Linked DNA regions of Homo sapiens: region 1 is linked to region 2. The links come from fine-mapping of genetic effects on plasma protein levels. Region 2 holds a variant in brackets. A gene starts in the other region. All regions are shown on their reverse strands.

Region 1 (5,377 bases), not on the chromosome of region 2:
TACTTACCTTTTTGTAGTTGTACTTGACCCCCAGAGAACATGTCCACAGAGATAGAGCCAAATGATGGAGCCAATATTTTAAGTCCTGTCAGCCTGACTCCTCAGCCCGCCCCTTTCTCTCATACCAGGTGGTCCCATTCATTGCATTACGGGTTGTCGATCTATTCTTATTATTAATCTAAGCACTATACACTGGTTATACACTTTCAGTAAGTGGATGGCAAGCTAGCATTAACAGACAGCTTTTCCCAAAATAAGCATATTCCATGCCTACCAAAGAATACGGGTAAGAAATAAGACCAGCCATCTATGGGAGAAGGAGCCAATGCAATGGCTAGTCTTTACTGGAAAGAAGAAACTTTACAGCACATTTTGAGTAATTTAGTGCAGGTGCTCAGTGTGCCAGCTGCTGGGGCACCAGCTTGTAATGGGCTCCACAGCGGGGGCATCGCTGGGCCTCGCCTTTGTGCAGCCAAAACCAGACGACGCTGGTATTGTCCTCTTCACCTAAAAGGGAAAAAAGGTGGTTTATGGTCATCCAACCTAGAAAGGGAGACTTTCAACATGAATTTCTTTTCCTCAGACATCTCTGATACACAAGTAAGACTATGGTTGATATCTTAAGAGATCAGTTCAAGCCCTCCTCCCATTCTTCAGATGAAGAAATTGAGGCTCTGAGTTCACCTATGAGTAAACTGACCTTGTATCAAGGTCACTGTAAATTCTAACAATTCCCTTGCCTATGTAGAACGCAAAGCAGGGTCCGTTCTGGTATGTATCCCTAGTGTCTAAAATGATGCCTGGCATAGAAGCAGTATAACAATAAATATTTGCTGGGTGGGTACTCCTTCATGCCGCACTCCCAGTGAGCCAGTCTTACCGCTGTGCTGCGCTTCTTTCCAGTAAGGATGAACTATCAGGCATAATGAGGCTTGAGAGTGTCAAGACCCTTAGACAAACTTACCAACATGCACTCACACACTGAAGATTTGAGGCAGCTTACACACTATTGTAGGATATATTAAGCAAGTGGATAAAAAATAGAGGTGAGGTACTTACAGATGCAGCCTACTATTCTCTTGTTGGAGATGGAGGGGACTAAATTAGGGTCTTCCCTGGTGCCTGAAGCTCCCTTTGGGGCCAGTACATTGTATGGGTCCTGAAGAAAAAACAAAAAACAAAACAAAACAAAAAAAACAAGAATTGAACCATTAGGCCAAATAAGCCCTACCTTCCAGAAGCTCAGGGGACTGTTCCTACAAGCCAAGTTTCCTGTATCAAATACTCCCAGAGAGGAGACCACTATGAACACATCCAAGGCCATAAGTTACACAGAAGACACAGAAGGGAGTTTCTCCTTACCAGTCCCTTCTTTGCAGCCAGCATGATCTCCCTCTCCAACCCAGTCGCCTGCTCTTCATCAGTGGGAACACCACCTAAAGGAAGATAACGTGAATTATGACGCTGACTGAAATGACTGATAGAAAAACTACAAACAGAAATGATCAAGGAAAATGGTGCCCCGAAACTTCTGTATAAGTTTTAGCGGGCTCACAAGCTCCTAAAGGCTACTCATATCCATGGTCCCCTAAGAACCACCAAGTACCCATCCACACAAGCGGCAGCACTCGGGGGAGCTTTTTTTTTCTTTTTTGAGACGGAGTTTTGCTCTTGTTGCCCAGGCTGGAGTGCAATGGCGCGATGTTGGCTCACGGGAACCTCCGCCTCCCGGGTTTAAGCGATTCTCCTGCCTCAGCCTCCCGAGTAGCTGGGACTACAGGCGCGCGCCACCACGCCCGGCTAATTTTTGTATTTTTAGTAGAAACGGGGTTTTACCATGTTGGCCAGGCTGGTCTTGAGCTCCTGACCTCAGGGGATCTGTCCGCCTCGGCCTCCCAAAGTGCTGGGATTACAGTTGTGAGCCACCGCGCCCGGCCTATGAGCTTTTCTTTCTCCAACCACCGAGGCAAATTTGTCGACATTTGTCTAAAAGCATGTAGAACCCACTCTGCTTGAGGTGGGCGCAGGTTTGAAGGGAGGCCGGACCCCTCCCCATCCCGGTGGCAGCCCCGGTCCCTCCCAAGGTCACCCGGCACCTCCGTTTAGGATACTTTCGCAGCGGAGTGAGTTCGGGGAGCGGCAGGAGCAGCGGTCCAGAATTACAGGGAGATGCCTGCAGAGCCTGAGGCACTGGGGACCGTAAAGCGGCCACTGGGACCTCGAGAAGCTGCACGAGCCGCGCCGCTTTGCCGCCCTGGGACCACCCTGGGAGGGCAACACTCTGGTCCCTGGCACGCCCGGAGACCCGAGTACCTCCAGATGCCATGGAGCGCATCGCGGCCGCGCCACTGGGGCCGCGAGCCCTCAGGGCCTGCGCGGCCAGCGTTCCAGCTCCGCGAAGTAACCTTGAAGCCATTGCGTCCGCGACTAGCAGCAAAACTTCCGGGAACAAGCTGCAGAGACAGGAGGGACTTCCGGGGGCGGGCTTCTTTCTCCTCTCGGTCAGCTTTCGGCTTCCTCCCAGCCCTCGAGCCCGCCCACTCCCAAGACTGTGGCGGGGGCGGAAATTGCGCATGCCCAGCTCTGCCTCTTTCTGCACCGCGTAGTGGCTGAGGCTTGGGGGCGGGGTTGCCTTTAATAACGCTGGGAGGTGGGAAAGTCTTTTTGGTCCCTGGAGTTGAGCGGCTGAACCACATTGGAGTTCCTGTGGGTCTGGCCCCGTAGTCGTGTTCAGCAAACGTGGAGGCTGCTAATGGAAGCTATTAGGTCCCCGTCTGTGAAGAGACTTACTGAACCCCAAATGATTTGAATTTAGAAGTGGGCTCCTAAAGATCACTGCGTTCCTTACTAGGCTGGTTAGTGGCAGGGCTGGTTCTGGCAGTGCGTGGGCCGTCGCGAGCGTGTCGCATTGGACGGGACCTACCTGCAGTCCTGGCCCAGTTTCGTGTTAGAGTTGTACTGTGTGTGGGAGGCGCGGAGGTCCCGGCCTGGGGAGGAGGACAGGGCCGGGGGCGGGACCCCCTACCAGGACCAAGGCCCTGGTGATGTGAAGGAAGTGGCCACTCTTTTTCGAGGCTACTAAGGGAGGAGGAGCAGGAAGGGGAGTTGATAATAGGAAATGGAGTTAGAGCCTGCTGTGACTGGAGTTCCTTGTTTGAAACGGAAAACATATTCCGTCCATGGCTTCCCGTTGCCCATAGGCTAAGATGTGCAAATTTCTTAGGGTGAGCTTTAGTCAGTATAGCCCTGTGACAGGCTAGCTGCATGCGGTATCTGAGTTTCCCTACCAGATAGAAAAATCCCCTTAGAGTGGGAATTAATGCTCATCATTGAATCTTCAATGCCTTGCAGAGGTCTGGTATATAGTAGGATCCAGTAATTTTAGTAAATTTACTACTTGGATAGAGTATACAAAACCAGTTTATAGGGCTTTTCCTGGCCCAGTGAGGTCAATTGGAGGCAACATGGGGAGAGTTGAAGGCTTAGGTGCTCCCGCCTGTCTCATGCAGGCTACGGTATTTTCAAAAGGACGTGGTGGAGCGTTGCTTCACAGGAGCACGTCTGGTCTTCCTGGGTGCCCCCTCCACCAATTAAAAAAAAAAAAAAAAAAACCCTGTATTCTAAGGCCAAAATTTCTTTAAAGGTGGTTTTTGCTTTGAATGGCTTCACTGTTACTCCCTTCTCCCTCACCTCCACTGCAACCCCTCCAAGTTGAATTGGGCGAAAATTCTGAGGATCTGTAGTTAATTTGCAACTGTGGTTAAGGTCTTAGGCAGGAGAAAAAAGCATTGGTCTGGAAAGTAGCCCCACCAGCTAGTTCAGCTACTTTTTATCCTTTGGGCCGCCATTTCTACATCAGTAAAACTGTCGTTCAACTAGGTTAGTATTTCCCAAAGTGTATTGCATGGCATCCAAGTCTCAAGACATGATCTCAAGAAAAAGGACTTGGTCAAGACAGGGAGGGCCTGCATTTGATGACCACCCTTTTGGAGATGGACACTAGCATAATAAAGGCTCTGATTAGGCTTGCAGTAAAGACCTCTTATTTAATTTACCTGCAGTTTAAGCCAGAGTTTCCCTGTCTTAATTGACCACAAAATCCTTTCTGAGGAACACCTACTAACTTGCCCCTCAGCAAACCAGTGAGGTATTCAGCTCTGATATGTTATGATTCCCTGCTGCCTGACCAGAAGTGGTTTACTCCAGGCTATAAAATGGAAATTGAGTTTAGGCTTCTCACTCTCATAGTAGGCTTGCCTAATAATAGGAAATTTTCGCAGGCCCTCATCCAACTCAGGAAAACCTCAGCCTCACTCTGGGATTATTTAGATTGTGTGAGTGAGCTCCAAGGTCAGGTCCAGGCTCCCCAGATGTCCCCGCATCCCTTGCTGCTTCCAGCTCCCACCACTGTCAACTCACACCCAGTCCCTCAGGTCTCCTTTGGAAACAGTTGGCTTGGGGAACAGTCTGCCACCTCTGCTCTATCATTGTCTTTGCCAGCACAATAAACTTATTTTTATAGGATAATTTTCAGTTGTCAAAATAAATGTACATTATAAGTTGAACAGCACAGATATATAAGGAACAAGCTAGCAGTTTGGTGCTTATCCTTTTTTTCCTTTCCCTATGACAGAGTTTCTCAAGCTCAGCACAACTGACATCTTGGGTTGATAATTCTTTGAGGGAGGTTGTGCATTGTAGGATTTAACCCTATGTCATTAGCACCTCCCTGACATGATAACCAAAAATATCTTCAGCCATTGCCACATGCCCCCTGGATTTGCAAAATTCCCATTGAGCATCACTGCATATATGAATATAAAATATAAAAACATAACTACTATACAAAGTTTTAGTTAGTTGCTTCTTTCATTAAAAAATATTTTGTAGGCTGGGTGCGGTGGCTCACACCTGTAATCCTAGCACTTTGGGAGGCTGAGGCAGGCAGATCACCTGAGGTCAGGAGTTCAAAACCAGCTTGGCCGACATGGCGAAACCCTGTCTCTACTAAAAATACAAAAATTAGCTGGGAGCGGTGGTGGGCGCCTGTAATCCCAGCTACGTGGGAGACCGAGGCAGGAGAATCACTTGCACCCGGGAGGCAGAGGTTGCAGTGAGCCAAGATCACATCATTGCACTCCAGCCTGGGCGACAGAGCAAGACTCCGGCTCAAAAAATATATATATTTTGTAGATGTCCCTTCAGATCAATACATCTAGATCTTAACTTACGTGATGGCTGCAGAATATTCCCTACTGTGAATGTACGTTAATGTGCCCAGCCATTCTCCCATGATGAATATTCCAAAGGCTTCTAGTTTTTTGCCTCTCATACAATGCTGCAGTATATTCTCATACAATATCTGAGAGTATATTCT
Region 2 (5,377 bases):
TAACTGAATTTCAAGTGCCACACTTTGGGTTAAATATTTACATGCAAAATTACTATAGTAACAATACTTATCTAATTCAAAAGTTCAGAACTACTAAAACTGGTCCAAAAGTTATATTCCTGCATTATTAGTGGTGGCTAAAAGTTAAACATATAAGCATAAGTGTACATAAATCAACAGGAGGCTGAAGGAACGTATTATAAAATACCCATGGATTAGAAAATTACAGTCATTAAAAAAGAAAGCAGATGCTTTATAAATGTGTTAATATGAAAAGATCTCAAGGATATACTGAGTGGAAAAGTGGCAAATATAAATGTACACTTGTATTTAAGGAAAAAATACATCATCATCATCATCATCATCATCATCATCACCATAATTTGGTTAACAAACAGAAGAGTTACCTCTGGAAAGTCAAACGTGGACTACTAGTGGGGGATGGAACCTAGGGGTGATAAACTGGGACAGAAATCTTCACTTTTTGTTTTATATTTTTTCAATACTTCTTTCAAAACTATGCGAATATACTGCTTTTAAAATTATTAAATAAATTGTTTTTGACTGTCCTTGAGTTGATCTATATTTGCTGATATGGAATGATCAGGTGAAGGGACCCTTAGTACCCCTGAACTCCTAGAACACTCCTAGCGCATTCTCTGCCTCTCTGTCTCACTCCTTTCCCTGGAAGAAGGAGTGCCTGATCTAAGTGCTGAGAGACTGAACTGAGCAGAGAGCCTGAAATGAGCAGAAAGCCCAACCCCTCTGAACTCCCTTTCAGATCTGCCTGCAGTGGAGCAAGCTGAAAGAGTATGAACACTTCCACTGTCATAGTGCAGGGTGTAAAGGGTCAGCAGGTATGCTGGCTTGTGCTTATCTAGTTGTGACAGTGATTCAGGTGAAATGCTGAAAGTCCTGTGCATTCTTGCTGCACATCTAAGTTGTGTTTTCCAAAAACACTGTTACTTCAGTCTCCATCTTACACCTAATTTTCAATTGATTCTGAACCAATTTAGAGAAGGTGGGGACAGTCTTAAATCTCAACAGCCCCCAAAATGCACCATTAAATGAAAAAGAAAAACACACTATAACACGTACAGTATGATATCACCAATGCTAAATTAAAAACCACGACTATAAACATATATGCATGCATACAAATGTGAGAAGGGATCCTGCACCCTCTCATTCCCTCCTTCGCTCACCTTCTCGTTCTGCCATGCCCTTCTCTAAAGAGATACCTGCCATTTCCCCCAGCAAGCTCTCTGGTCTGTGGAGGAGGTCAGCATGCAGCTCTGCCTTGCCCAGCTCTCCAAGCATACCACGGCCTGACCTGAGGGTCTGTACAGGCTGCAGGCTATGACCTGTACAGTGCCTAAGATGATACAATACCACCTATGGAGAAAGCTCTTGTGAACAGACATTTAGATAGAGCTCCTCCTTCCAGGTGTTGTGGAAGAGTAGCTCCACGCTGGCTTGGCTGCAAAACACTTTATAGATGTAGGAGGTGGTATCATAAAGGAAGATTACAGAGGAAATGCTGGTGCTGTACTGTTTTATTTTGGCAAAGAAAAGTCTGAAGTCAAAAAAGGTGATTGAACTGCAGTTCATTTGTGAACAAATCTTTATCCAGAAATAGAAGTTCAAAGCTTTGGATGACACTGAAAGAGGTTCAGGAGGTTTGGGTTCCACTGGAAAGAATTAAAACTTATGCTAAGAATAGAAAATGAGAAATCATACCTTTTTCTTAAAGAGTTTTTGCTTTGAAAAAAAAGTCTGAAAGAACCAATGTTAAACCATGTGCTGGCAGAAAGTGACAGCTGTCACTTTTCACTCTATTTAGTCATCTAAAGAGACGTCTAAATAGTTGTCTAAAAGACGACTGTAACTTTCCACTCTATTTACTTTTGTGCTATTCAAAATTCCCCAACAAGCACTGCTATGGCCTGAAAGTTTGTGCCCCTCCAAAATTTACATGCTGAAAGCTAATCCCCAGACTGCTGGTAGTAAGAGGTAGAGTTGGGAGGCAATTAGGTCAGGGAGGTAGAGCCCTCATTAATGGAATTAGTGCCCTTATAAAAGAGGCCTGAGGGAGCTGCCTGCCCCTTCTGCCATGTTAAGATGCAGTGAGCAAGAGGCACCATCAGTGAGGAACAGACCCTCACCAGACCCAGGATCTGCTGGTGCCTTCACCTTAAACTTACCAGTCTCCAGAACCATGAACAATCAAGTTCTATTGTTTATAAACTACTCAGTTTAAGGTATTTTTGTTACAGCAGCCCAGACTAAGACAAATTTCAATTCGTCTATTACTATGGCCATTTTCAAAAACTTTAAAATGTGTTTAAATAATTTTTGCTAGGATTTTAGTAACCATAGATCAAATGCAAGTTTCTGGACTTGATGATTACTAACAGTTGAGAGAAGTGGTTCTCAAAGAGTGGTCTCCAGACCAGCTCCATCAGCATCACATAGGAGCAAACTCTGGGGCCCCACCCCAAGTCTACAGAACCAGAAACTCTGGGGTGGAACCTAACATCTGTACTTTAAACAAGGCCTTCCCTCAGGTGATCATAATGCCAGCTAAACTCTGAGAACCACAGGGTTAGAGGATAACTTATACTAATCAAGCTTCAATTTTCTGATTTCTAAATCTTCAGTAACTATGAACACATACACACACACCATATTAAATCATTTTTCAGCTGAATTTCTCAAATATTTGTGGAATACCTTTCAAATTGCATTACTGTAGCACCTTTTTAATATAAATGAAAATACTGCAGTAGAGAAAACAAGGTATCTTGAAACTATGAGAATCCCGAGCCTCTTTAAAGGCATTAAAAAGTGCTTCCAGAAGAGATTTCCTACTGGGAAGAAGCTATAACATGGCTGCCTTCATTACTCCCTGAAAAACAACCTCAGCCAAGGAACAATTTGTTAATGGAGTACATTATGACAACATAGCGCATTCATAGCTAGTATTTCTCTTTCCTAATATTAAGAA[G/A]CTATTTAAAATTAAGTAGTGTTAGCATTTACAGATACCTGTTTGGTGATCGTCTTGGCCAATGTCTTCTGTTAGGTTCTGAAAGAAATATGTTCGTTATTACGAAGAAATCACATACCGTTAGCATTTTCATAAACAACTGATATCCTAATATCTAGAATCTAAATTTTTATCAAATACACTTATACAAAATGACTACTTCAAACAGTTGGTAATTTTGTCTTTAAAAGAATGACTTACCAGCTTATTAAGGGTGTGGTAGATCTTATGAATATTTGCCAGTGTTGAGAGATGAGAGTTCAGCTGAAAATCTTGAAAAGAAAAAGGAAAAATGTCAGCGTCATTTATTTCCAATATTGTAAAAAAACAAACTCAGAAAATAAACAAATGTTTTGATATAATTAAATACTATCTCAATTAATTTGACACTAAAGTTTTTTAAAAACATGCAATTAGTGACCTCCTAGAAATAGTCTGACAATAAAGTTAAATTCCCAACCAAATGTTAAAGTTCATGAAATTTTCATGTGAATTCTAAGGTAAAACAAAAAGTACTTCAGTAGTTATAAAATCCTGCCAGCAGTGAACTTGAACTTAATAGAAAGATAAGTCTCAAATGAAATGTTCACTTTCCCCTCTCTTCCCTAGAATTACTGGTACAATTAAGTAAGCTCATGGCAAGAAAATGATAGAAAAGCATCCCAACATTAGTATTTATTTTTTCTTTTCCTTTTTTTGAGACAGGATCTCACTACGTTGCCCAGGCTGAAGTGCAGTGGTGCAATCATGGTTCACTGCAGCCTCAGACTCCCAGGCTCAAGTGATCTGCCTGAGCCTGCATGGTAGCTGGGACTACTAGTGTGCACCATCATGCACAGCTAATTTTTCTTTTTTTTTTTCTTGTAGAGACAGGGTCTTTCTATGTTTCCCAGGCTGGTCTTGAACTCCTGGGTTCAAGTGATCCTCCTGCCTCAGCCTCCCAAAATGTTGGGATTAAAGGTGTGGGCCACTACGCGCAGCCTCAACTTGAAGTAAAGTATGTTTGCATATATATTAGGCAATAAAAATGTAAGCTGAAAGTTTATTAATAATTTCATATATAAGTACCACTGGAAGTATTTTCACAAAATATCAGGATTTACATTAGTTCCTTCTTTCCTATTAAAGGTTAGTATGAAAATGACCATGAAAAGATATTGTAACTCTCCAAGTTATACCATTCTGACAAAAAGAAAGAAAGAAAAAAAGCTCCCTTTACTGAAACATTTTATTTAGGACACGTATCAGATCCAAAGAACAGATCCAAAGAGCAGGTGCTACAATATCAGGTGTCTGTGCTTGGGCTGGATCCTCTGTGCTGCTACTCTGAACCCTGAAAACAAGCTGGCCTCCCTGTTCACAGTTAGAAAGCTTTACTTTCTCTTCTAAAGCTTGTTGGGCATCCAGTTCTGAGTAGGTCTGCAGGGCAGAGGGGCTGGCAGAAGCAGAGCCCCTCACATTCACATGCAGTGTCAGGAACAGCAGGTCATACCTGTATACATACATGTGCATATGCACTGTTCACAGTCATAGCCATATAGAATGGTCCCCAAAACCAGCATTTTGTGCTGAGAGACAGCCAGAGCAGGGCCTCAAGCTCTAAATGGCCCTCCAATATAGACATGCTTGAATTGCTTAGCATCTGAATAGCCCAGCCATGCTTAAGGTAAATGATGACATAAAGTGGCTGAGAATCTGGATTTTTCATCTAAATACGACTGCACAGAGGTTTAGAAAAGTATGTGTATTATACACCTATTTATTTACATTTATATTTATTAAACGTGAACAGGGGTAGAAGCTAGAAGCTACAGCCCTCTCACCAGCAAGAGGCCTCTCAGGACCAGCAAGAGGTGCTGAGGAGCTTGAACATTCAACTCTTGCACCTCCACCCCATCCACTACCAAGCCATAGCCCCCTTTTTGTACTCTCTCAGATTAAATATAGGAAGACAAATGATACATTCCATTATCACCTTAAAATATGAAGTTAAACTCTTGGGCCCCCAAAAAAACAAAAAGCAAAAACTGAGAAAACTTTAGCCTCTTGATTCTCTTTTCACTGAGGGTAAGGGAGGGGAGAGAAAAAGGGGCTTGCCAAAAGCCATTCCAGCAATGAGGTCTCTTCTAACTCTCCAGGCTATGCTTTTGTCATTTCACCACCCTGCTGTTAATTAAACTCCCAAAATTCCCATAAGAGAATCTAAATAAACCAAAACTGTTATATCTTTCTCCCTCCTTTATATAAATGTGGAAGAAGTAGAAAAGACAAGAAACACAAGTTATCCTCAATCTGGAATTCCAGGACTTCGGTGAGCTGGGCCCAACTCAT

Which allele goes with the higher level. Alleles are on the strand shown, and positions count from the first base shown. The strength of an association depends on the size of the effect and on how common the allele is.
For the plasma level of the protein whose gene starts at base 2,441 in region 1, allele A in region 2 goes with a lower level than allele G (moderate association).

What was found. PIP is the posterior inclusion probability: the model's chance that the variant is causal. Protein levels are from antibody-based Olink assays in UK Biobank. Linkage for the fine-mapping came from a reference panel and not from the study's own genotypes, which makes the PIPs less certain.
Region 1: it holds the start of COX5B, and the variant in region 2 is fine-mapped to the plasma level of the COX5B protein (UK Biobank, PIP above 0.99).

The regions. Positions count from the first base shown.
Region 1 is chr2:97,643,126-97,648,502 of GRCh38, reverse strand. It overlaps COX5B (cytochrome c oxidase subunit 5B), which reads right to left and starts at 2,441. Exons shown (of 4, transcript NM_001862.3): 1 at 2,314-2,441; 2 at 1,363-1,436; 3 at 1,060-1,159; 4 at 120-507. The coding sequence starts at 2,416. The coding sequence ends at 395. RefSeq lists enhancers at 2,337-2,516, 2,697-2,746, 2,549-3,483.
Region 2 is chr4:51,861,378-51,866,754 of GRCh38, reverse strand. DCUN1D4 (defective in cullin neddylation 1 domain containing 4) reads right to left here. Exons shown (of 11, transcript NM_001040402.3): 2 at 3,248-3,318; 3 at 3,046-3,085. It also overlaps the pseudogene DUTP7. Among named protein-coding and RNA genes, the nearest start is that of DCUN1D4, 21 kb to the right of the region's middle. The variant G/A (reference allele first, on the strand shown) is at 3,008.